3 linked regions of the Homo sapiens genome follow. The protein of the gene in region 2 purifies or fractionates together with the protein of the main gene of each other region. This does not show direct contact. Each region holds a gene or a part of one and is shown on either strand. Other genes may lie near its edges.

What was found.
Region 1: the proteins of NR2C2 (region 2) and DNMT1 purify together in Homo sapiens (affinity purification with western blotting; 2 studies listed by BioGRID, with this or other methods). This does not show direct contact.
Region 3: the proteins of NR2C2 (region 2) and KLHL7 purify together in Homo sapiens (affinity purification with mass spectrometry; 2 studies listed by BioGRID and IntAct, with this or other methods). This does not show direct contact.

What each region holds. Positions count from the first base shown.
Region 1 is NC_000019.10:10,149,874-10,153,527, forward strand, and holds part of DNMT1 (DNA (cytosine-5)-methyltransferase 1), read right to left. Parts: intron 1,975-3,654; coding exon 1,877-1,974; intron 1,673-1,876; coding exon 1,525-1,672; intron 96-1,524; coding exon 1-95. UniProt on the Homo sapiens protein: Methylates CpG residues. Preferentially methylates hemimethylated DNA. Associates with DNA replication sites in S phase maintaining the methylation pattern in the newly synthesized strand, that is essential for epigenetic inheritance.
Region 2 is NC_000003.12:14,953,982-14,957,635, reverse strand, and holds part of NR2C2 (nuclear receptor subfamily 2 group C member 2), read right to left. Parts: intron 1-3,654. UniProt on the Homo sapiens protein: Orphan nuclear receptor that can act as a repressor or activator of transcription.
Region 3 is NC_000007.14:23,175,079-23,178,547, reverse strand, and holds the end of KLHL7 (kelch-like protein 7), read right to left. Parts: 3' UTR 634-3,469; downstream 1-633. UniProt on the Homo sapiens protein: Substrate-specific adapter of a BCR (BTB-CUL3-RBX1) E3 ubiquitin ligase complex. The BCR(KLHL7) complex acts by mediating ubiquitination and subsequent degradation of substrate proteins. Probably mediates 'Lys-48'-linked ubiquitination.

The sequences.
Region 1 (3,654 bases), on a different chromosome or scaffold from region 2:
GAGGAATCATCTGGAATAACAGAGACACAGTCCCCCACTTCCAGGGTTTCCGCATCAATGCACACCTTCTTATAGTAACTCTTCTTCCCATCAGTCTGAAAATGAGAGCATAAGTTCATGGAGGATCATTCTGAGGGTCTTTGCTGGCCTTGACTTGCATGGTCCTCTGTTACTTAAAGTAAGACATGACTCGATTTCATTAAGAAGTCAATGAAGAGTTGCTGCTAAAGAGAACATCCTGTTCTACAAGGGCTTCAATAATAAGAAAAAAGAAGAACATCCACCTTCCTTGGCCAGATGCTGTGGCCAAGGGCATCCATGTCCCTCCCACTTCTGCTCTGCCACTCGGGTCCCAGGATTTGATTTTAACAGCACAGCCCACAATACCTCACCATGGTCTGTAAGGCCACAGCCTGAACCCTGACCCCTGTCCTGCCCATCATCCCCTGGCTCAAGCCACTCCAGCTGCAGGGGCCTCCTTCCTTTTCTCCAACAAAGTAAGCTGACTGCCACCTCAGTGCAGCTCTCCCCCAGGTCGTGTGGCTAGGTCCTACCTGACCTTCTCCATCTCAGCCCAGGTGTCACCTCTGCAAGGCCTCGTGGCCCCAGCCTCCTCCCAGCCCCCTACCCTGCAGAGGCACTCATGCCATGCAGCAGTACCCATGTCTGTCCTCCTGCAGGGGCTCAGCCACGGCCCAGGCAGCCAGCAGGTGGCAAGCCTCATAATTAAGTGAACTGATTGCATCTTTAATTTATGGACGTCAGAGAAGCAACACAGAGGATACTCACTCCTCTCTCTCACACTGTGGTAAAGGAACTGACCTTCAGTGAAGCCAATGACCACAGAACGGATGGGAGGCCATCTGTTGGTGCCCCAAAAAGACCCACCCCACACCAGAGGGGGCTGTGACAGCTCTCTTGGAAACAAGCTATGAGGGGCCAGGCACAGTGGCTCCTGCCTGTAATCCCAGCACTTTGGGAGGCTGAGGTGGGTGGATCACTTGAGGCCGGAGTTCGAGAATGGCCTGGGCAACATGATGAAACCCCGTCTCTACTAAAAATACAAAAAAAGTTAGCCTGGCATGGTGGTGCACGCCTGTAATCTCAGCTATTCAGGAGGGTGGGGCAGGAGAATCGCTTGAACCTGGGAGGCAGAGGTTGCAGCGAGCTGAGATCGTGCCACTGCACTCCAGCCTGGGTGACAGAGCAAGATTCCATCTTAAACAAAACAAAACAGAAAAACAAGCTATGAGGGCTCACCTGCCTGATGCCCCTAGAACTGTGTCAAATGCCCATTTTGGGACATTAGGAGAACTGAGCCTTGTGGCCACACAAAAATGCCTTGCTGGTACTGAGCCATGGAACATGGTCTCTTGGCCAGTCCCGCTCTTCTCAGGGGCAAACAGACAGGTTTCTTAGTGCCGGGGCTCAGGCTGCCTGAGAGGTCAGGTTGGCGAGATACTAGAGGGCAACCTGCTTATTGGGAACATGGCAGTGAGCTGACCAAGGGGCTCCAAGGGTTACCTTGACGGCTTCTCCGACCCAAGAGATGCGATTCTTGTTCTGTTTCTTCTTCTTCCCCTGGTGCATTTTTTTGGGTGACGGCATCTCTGGGATGTTATCATCGACTTCCTCATCGTCATCTGCCTCCTTCATGGCCATATTGGGACACCTGCAATGTCACTGGTTATACCTAAGGCCCCTTTTCTAAGTAAGACCAACCGGGGCTGTTTTCTTCATAACAGGGACAGGTCCTGAGACAATGCCTAACGAAGGAATCCTGGTGCTGTCCCACACATGCAGGCCCTTCTCCACAGTGCATCTGCCACCAGCTGGCAAGTCCTCTGCCACAGGAGGAAGACTCGGCCTGACCTACCTCCGCTCTTGGCAAGCCTGCTTGCTCCGTCCACTGCCACCAAATTTAACCATGTCCTTGCAGGCTTTACATTTCCCACACTCAGGCTGCTGACACACCTAAAAAATGGCATTAAAAAGGCAAATCAGGGCTGGGCACAGTGGTTCATGCCTGTAATCCCAGTATTTCAGAAGGCCGAGGCAGGCAGATCACTTAAGGTCAGGAATTGCAGACCAGCCTGGCCAACGTGGTGAAACCCCATCTCTACTAAAAATACAAAGATTAGCCAGGCATGGTAGGGTGTGCCTGTAATCCCAGCTACTTGGGAGGCTGAGGCAGGAGAATTGCCTGAACCTGGGAGGTGGAGATTACAGTTAGCCAAGATCACACCACCATATTCCAGCCTGGACGACAAGAGTAAAACTCCATCTCAAAAAAAAAAAAAAAAAAAAAAAAAAAAAGGAAAAAAAAAGGGCAAATCACACAGCCCTTACTAACAATGAGACAAATGATGCATTAAGACTTTTAGGTCTCAAAAAATTAAAAAAAAAAAAAAAAAGTGAGTCACACAGCCCTTAGCAACAATGAAACAAACGGTGAATTAAGACTTTTAGGCTGGGCATGGTGGCTCATACCTGAACCAGTACATTGGGAGGCTGAAGCAGAGGTAGATGGATCACTTGAGTCCAAGAGTTCAAGACCAGCCTGGGCAACATATTAAGACCCCCAACTCTACAAAAAATTAAAATTAGCCAGGCGTGTGACAAATTCCTGCAGTCCCGGCAACTCAGGATGCTAAGGCGGGAGGACTGCTTGAGTTCAGGCATTCAAGACCAGCCTAGGCAACATGGCAAAATCCCATCTACAAAATGTTTTTTTTTAATTAGCTGGGCATGGTGGCGTGCACCTGTGGTCCCAGCTACTTGGGAGGCTAAGGTGGGAAGATCACTTGAGCCCAGTAGGTTGAGAATGCAGTGAGCTACAATCATGCCACTGCATTCCAGACTGGGTGACAGAACGAGACCCATCTCAACAACAACAACAACAACAACAACAACAAAACCAAGACTTTTAAAAATGTGCCTATTTGGCTGGGTGCAGTGCCTCATGCCTCTAATCCCGGCAGTTTGGGAGGCCAAGACAGGAGGACCACTTGAAGCCAGGAGTTTGAGACCAGGCAAGGCAACACAGCAGGACCCTGTCTCTACAAAAAAAAAAAAAAAAAGCAATATTCAACCTCATTAGAAATATGGTAAGTGAGAGAAATAAAATTCCCTTCCCATTCTCCAGATGGGTTAAGAAGCCAGATAGGTGGTGTGAGGAAAGAAGAACGCACACTGCTCAAATGGTAAGTTGGTAGAACCATTTTGGAGAGCAATCTTCTAGATCAAAGTTAAGAATACACACCCACAACCCAGCAACGCTACTTCTAAGCAGATACACTCGCGAGAAGCTTTGCTCAAGGATGCTGCCACATATTTACAATACTGAAGAGGTGCCTATCATTGAGGAGTAAGTTAGGATATTCATTTAACAAAATACTACAGAATATTTAAAATGAAATAACTAGATCTACCAGTATCAACACGTAACAGTTACACAAATAAAAACAAATGATTTTAGGGCTGGGCACAGTGGCTCACACCTGTAATCCCAGCACTTTGGGAGGCCGAGGTAGGTAGATCACTTAAGGTCAGGAGTTTAAGACCAGCCTGGCCAACATGGTGAAACCCCATCTCTACTAAAAATACAAAAAAAATTAGCCGGGTATGGTGGCGGGTGCCTATAATCCCAGCCAC
Region 2 (3,654 bases):
ATATCCAGCCTGGGCAACATCGTGAGACCTTATCTCTAAAAAAATAAAAAATTGTAATACAGACCATAGAATGATAGTAGTAAATCATACTTGGTTGGCCTTATGTGACAGGTTTTATAAGAAATTCTTTCAAATCCAAGTGGATCAATATCACCCCACCAACAACAAAGAAGCAGAGAACAGAACAATGACTTTGAATTAGCTCTTCCAGGCTCACAAAGTGATAGCTAACTAAACCTTGCAACCAGAGTTTCTTTAGTGAAGTAGGGCACAGACTTCACTGCAGTGAAAAGCTGGGCTCTGGAAACACCTGAATCTCCAGTTTCAGATAACAATGAACAAGTCCTGGGACAAGGAGACGCTGCCTTCATTAATAGGAATGAGTGAGGCTGCCTTTCCCTCCACAATCAACTGATTCAAATCATCCATATTTATGTGTTACATGGCTTATAAATATAACATGCAAAGTATCTACTGTCTTGGTATTTCCTTAGCTAAACAACTATATTGGGTTCTGAGGCTCAGGCACTAAGCTCATCTCTCAGATACTGACCATATGAGGTTATAGTGAAGATTTGATCTTAAATGTGTATACGTTGTGCTTGGGACATAGAAATGCAACACATGGTAGCTATCATTGGTGAAAGGTGATGGTGCCACTTTTGCTTTCTCAAAGAAATCTGAAAGTAACTCAAACTGTAAAATGTGTATTATGATTAGGAATAGGTCTGATTTTCACATAAGGCTCACATGAAATTTAACTATATACACATGGAAGTAGTGTAAACACACACACAGCCGGGGCGGTGGCTCATGCCTGTAATCCCAGCACTCTGGGAGGCCAAGGCAGGCGGATCACCTGAGGTCAGGAGTTCGAGACCAGCCTGACCAACATGGAGAAACCCTATCTCTACTAAAAATACAAAATCAGCCAGGCATGGTGGCATATGCCTGTAATTCCAGCTGTTTGAGGCTGAGGCAGGAGAATGGCTTGAACCTAGGAGGCAGAGGTTGCAGTGAGCTGAGATTGAGCCACTGCACTCCAGCCTGGGCAACAAAAGTAAAACTCTTGTCTCAAAAAATAAATAAATAATAAAAAAACAAACACCCACACAAAGCATTTGTAATTCGCCCTGTTAAACTGTACAACTGGGCAAAACAATGGGGCTAAATTAGGACAAAATCTTACAAATATTTAAAAATAAACCAATACCTAATAACTACTTGCAAAATACTACTGGGCATAGAACTCTTGATAGGTACAAGGCATTCAGTATAAGTCTAATTATTCTGATTGTTAGAAGTCTGTTCATATTCATGGGAAAATTAAAATGGAAGGATTTAGATAGCCTGAGAGAGGATAAAAAATAAGAAATACATAGCTTGAAACTTGCAATCATAGATCAAGACTTGAAAGTAGAAAATGAAATTCAAGTGGCAGGTTTAGTGTAATACAAATGTTCATCAACAGAAAAGATACTCACTGGGATGCCTCTAAGGTTAAGTTTAGGTATACTTCCTGTCAATGGAAAGCCAATTATTTATTTAGACTCCAAGTTTACTTAGCTTTAGGGTCAGGTAATTTCCTTTCCATTGTGACCCTCCATAGGAAAGTTGTTTCTTCCATATTCAAAGCAACTGTAAAAAAGTGCAGCAATGATATGTATATGGTAGAAGTAGCAAGGCTGGGTGAGTGACTAGTAGGGAAGAGAAGTGGCTTTCACATAAATGAAGTTCTTACATATTTATAGTATCAGAGCAGTTCTACAATTTTCTGTGTTGACACCTCCCCTAAAAAAGTCACTACATACTGTGGATGATTTTTTCTTATCCTACCAAGAGCCCAAGTGTAAGGGTGATGTGGACTTTCTTCATATCTATCAGTAAGAGCCAGGGTAGATGGATGGAAGGAAAGCAGGATAAATTCTCTTGACATCCACAATGTGCTTTAAATCAAACTAGGCATGATTTAATCCTTAGCATACCTTCTGAGTATGTAATATTAGCTCACCAATGAAGATGGAAAAAACTGAGACTCAGCACTTGTAACTCGTTTCAAATCATCCAGCTACTAAGCGATGGAGCTAGGATTCCAACTGAGGCCTCTTTGACTCTAAAATCGCAACATTCCCTCTAGATCACAGTGCCCTTCAAAATAATTTCCCAGAAAAAAGGAAGTCAAGGAGAGAATGAAAAAAAAAAGTGACAGGAAAGAATTATCTAAGGGAACAAAAATTGCTTACATCAATAAGCTAGATCATTTAATAACTGATATACACAACCACTAAGTCGTAATATGTGACTTATGTTTCAGTATTGCTAACAGAAATTTCTGAGGCTGCTCCACCCAGGTAGTACCATGGCAGTTCTTTTAGAACTTTGAACACATTCTTCCCTTAAAACTTAACCTACACAATAATCACATTAATTAAAATAGTGAGAACAATTTTACTAAGTAAAACTTTTTACTTAACTACAACACGCAGATACAAAAGGGCACAAACCAGCCAGGCTCGGTGGCTCCTGCCTGTAATCCTAGCACTTTAGGAGGCCGGGATGGCTGGACTGCCTGAGCTCAGGAGTTCAAGACCAGCCTGGGCAACATGGTGAAAACCTGTCTCTACTAAAATACAAAAAATTAGCTGGGCATGGTGGCACACGCCTGTAGTCCCAGCTACTCGGGAGGCTGTGGCACGAGAATCCTTTGAACCTGGGAGGCGGAGATTGCAGTGAACCAAGATCGTACCACTGCACTCCGGCCTGGGCGGCAGAGGGAGACTCCATCTCAAAAAACAAAAAAAGGCACAAATCGTAAATGAACAGTTTGATGAATTTTCACTAACTGAACACACAGAACACACATGTAAATGCCACTCAGATCAGAAAACAAGACATTACCAATACCCCCAAAAGTCCCTCTCACACCCCTTCCCATAGTCAATAACTTCTCTTCCCTCTCCTGACTTTTATACTACTGGCATTACTTTATAATATTATTGCACTGTTTATAATACACTTTTTGGTATGTCTGGCTTCTTTTGCCCAACATTATTTTTGTAATAACCATGAGAAGTGAATCCATTTTCACTGTCGTACAGTATTCTAATGTACGACTATGCCCAATTTATTTCTCCATTCTATAGCTGATGAACACTTAGATTGTTTCTAGTTTGGAGTCCTTATGATTAGTGCTCCTATGAACATTTTCACACATGCCTTTTGATGTACTGCTTTCTTTTCTTCGTTTGAAAATTTTACTATTTTTAAAAATTAACTGTTTTACTTTTATCTATTTTTAATTTTTATTCTCGAGAAAGTACATTGTTTATTTCTTTAGAAAAGACATATTATAAATTTATTTTATTTTTAAAAATCTGTATTATATTAAATAAGTCAACAACACAGTCTAATTATTAGCCTTTCCAGTTAAAAGCTGATATATACTTTGTGACATCTGCTTTTAGTCTTGGTAAAGCAATCAATTAAAAAATGATTTTTCAATTCCAGGGTTAGTCATCTTATCAACCTAATAAAAAGATGCATCATTACAGACACCATAGTGGTGGGACAGGGGACAAGAACGAGTGTGGTACAAATGACATATCCAAAATGTTCTAGAAATAATACCTAATCAGATTCACTATACAACAAATA
Region 3 (3,469 bases), on a different chromosome or scaffold from region 2:
GGCATACTATATAAAAGAACAATTATAGAAATAAAGTACTCTTGGAAAACGTAGATAGTGGGAACAAATTAAAGAAGGTTAGAAGATAAAGTCTGAGGGAATTTCTATAAGATTCAAACTAGATCTTGAACCCCATTTTAAATCTGTTATGAGAGAGGGCGTAAAGCTCTGGAGAGTAAAAAGATTTCTAGTTAATAAGGGCAACATTTCAAACAATTTCCCAGCACAGACTTTTTTAAATAAAATTTTTATTTTTTCTAAAGTAGTGTGAATCATCTTGGGAAGGAGGAAGGTGAGAAAGATAAAAGTGGATTCAAGCTTTTTGAAGTCTTTTGAGGCAACTGTAAAGAGGGAGGAGGCTATTTAAAGGAAGGATTTATCAAACGCTGAATGATGCCACCTGTAAAATGTCCTTTCATTAAAAGAACAGATTATTTGGACTTAAGGGTCCAAATAATGACTCTCAGTGAGAGCTGGTTTGGTGCCATGTGGGAGTAAATTGGATTTTCTCAAGTCTTTGGTATAACCTTAGAAAGCAAAATTTCGTCTAAATACCTCCTTTACCCATGCATATGTAGCAAATCCAAAATTTTTGCTGTTAACAGTATATATGGCAAAAGGAATATAGACTGCTTGGTGGAATAATTGTTTATTAAACGGCTGATTTTGATTTTGTTAGCAATATTGTCATGTCAAAATAATTCATGACTTAAAATTTTCATGGGATGATATGTCAAGTTTTTGCCAGCTGGACCACAAAGTCACAAGTATATGTTTTGTTTTGTTTTTTTCAAATAGCAACAATTTTTTTAAGATGCTAAACTTTTCTGACCGAATTGTGATTTTTGAAAGCATAAACTTACTTTGTCATCAAAATAATATCATTGCAAAGGATATAACATTAACTTATCAAATGTCTACTAAAAAGCAAGCAGAGCACTTTACAGGACAGGGAGTTTTGGGCAACAAAATAGAAAATGTGCTTGTCAGTATGGTGAGTGTACTTTTACGCACTATCCTGATATTGACAATTCTGTAGAAATTTCCAAGGCAGAAAAAGACACTAATTGGGAATTATGATACAGATTACTAAGGAAAAAAACCACTTCATTATAATCCACATCAAACCTGTGTATGTATTTACTATAGTGTGTTCTAGTCAATTGACATAGCCTAAAAGGAAATGCTGGTGTACTTAAAATATCTTAGACAGGTACTGTATATTCTACATAGGAGATTGTCAAATTATATAGCTATATTGTAATATAATAAATGGATATTTCACTCTCAAAAAATTAAACTAGCCACATTTTTCAATAGAGTGCAAAATTGAAAACCCTACTAAAAATGTTCAGAATAATCAAATCTAGAGACAGAAAGTAGATTAGTGGTTGCCTAGGGCTATGGTGTTTGGGAGGTTTTCTGTGTTGAACAGCATCTCCCCAAATTCATGTCTATCCAGAAGCTCAGAATGTGTCCTCGTTTGGAAATGGGGTCTTTACAGGTGTAATTAAAATAAGGTCATACTGGATTGCGGGCCCTATGTTGTCCTTTTTTTGTTTGTATTTTGCTTTGAGAAGGTGTCTTGCTCTGTCACCCAGGCTGGAATGAAGTGGCGCAATCTCAGCTCACTGCAACCTCTGCCTCCCAGGTTCAAGCAATTCTCCTACCTCAGCCTCCTGAGTAGCTGGGACTACAGGTGCACACCACCATACCTGGCTAATTTTTGTATTTTTAGTAGAGACGGGGTTTTGGCATGTTGTCCAGGCTGGTCTCAAACTCCTGACCTCAGGTAATCCACCCGCCTCGGCCTCCCAAAGTGCTGGGATTAAGGGCGTGAGACACAGCGCCCAGCTTTTTTTTTTTTTTTTTTAATGAGACAGGGTCTCAGTCTGTCACCCAGGCTGGAGTGCAGTGGCACAATCATAGCTCACTACATCCTTGAACTCCTGGGCTCAAGTGATCCTCCCACCTCAGCCTTCTGAGTAGCTAGAACTGCAGGTATATACCACACCTGCTAACTTTTTATTTTTTTGTAGAGACAGGGTCTTGAACTCCTAGCCTCAAGTGATCCTACTGCCTCCACCTCCCAAAGTGTTGAAATTACCGGCCTGAGCCACTGTGTCTGGCTCCTATGTTGTCCTTATAAGAACACCATGTGAAGATACAGAGACACACAGGGAAAAAGCCCATGCGAAGACAGAGACAGAGACTGAAGTGCTGCAGCTACAAGCCAAAGAATGCTGAGGATTGCTGGCAACCACCAGAAGCTAGGGGAGAGGCATGTGTGGTTTCTGCTGCAGACCCTCCAGAAGGAACTAACCCTGCTGACAACTTGATTTAGGAGTGCTGGCTTCCTGAATTGTGAGAGAATAAATTTCTGTTCTTTAAAGCCACCAAGTTTGCAGTAGTTTGTTATGGTAGCCCTAGGAAATACAGGGGCGTTGGGGGAAATAGGGAACCATTGCTAATCAGTACAAGGTTTCTTTTTGGGGTGATGAAAATGTTCTAAAATTGTGGTGATGGTTGCGTAACTCTGTGGATATATTAAAAACCACTGAATAATACATTTTTTTTTTTTTTTTTTTTTTTTTAGTCTTGCTCTGTTGCCCAGGCTGGGGTGCAGTGGCTTGATCTCAGCTCACTGCAACCTCTGCCTGTCAGGTTCAAGCAATCCTCCTGCCTCAGTCTCCTGAATAGCTGGGATTACAAGTGCACACCACCAGGCCTGGCTAATTTTTGTATTTTTAGTAGAGACGGGGTCTCATCATGTTGGCCAGGGTGGTCTTGAACTGCTGACCTCAAATGATCTACCCACCTTGGCCTCCCAAAGTGCTGGGATTACAGGCGTGAGCCACTGTGCCTGGCCTGAATAGTATACTTTAAATGGTGAATTGTATGGTATGTGAATTATATCTCAATAAAGCTGTACATTAAAAAACCCTACACAAATAGAAATATACCTATCATTATGTTTTTCCTAATTCCTTTTTGATTTAAACATTTTTAGGGTTTAAGACTATTATAACCTCTATATAAAGAAAACTGAAAATTAAGAGACACTGGTTCACAAATTCTAAAAACAACCATTACCTAAAATACTTGAAGAACAAACTGAGTGGCCTATTTTAAGTTAAAAAATATTTAATATTATCAGATAAAAACATTGATTGTGACAGCTTTACATGTTTCATTCCATACACAGTGAAAAAGGCAAAGTATTACTAGGAAGGAAATGAGTAGTTGGGTTTGTAAAAGATTTATTGATCACATAAAAGCAATGAATAGGAGATGACATATATCTAACTCATGATTACAAAACTTTTAGAGACAACTAGGTTAAATATTTCATGTTTTGGCTAAGGGAAAAGAATTCATGATCTCGTTAAAGAAGTTCAAAGTCAACACTGATATTGTACAACTACCAGTGCTTTTCTAATGATCTAGAAATTTGCTATAAATAGCTTTA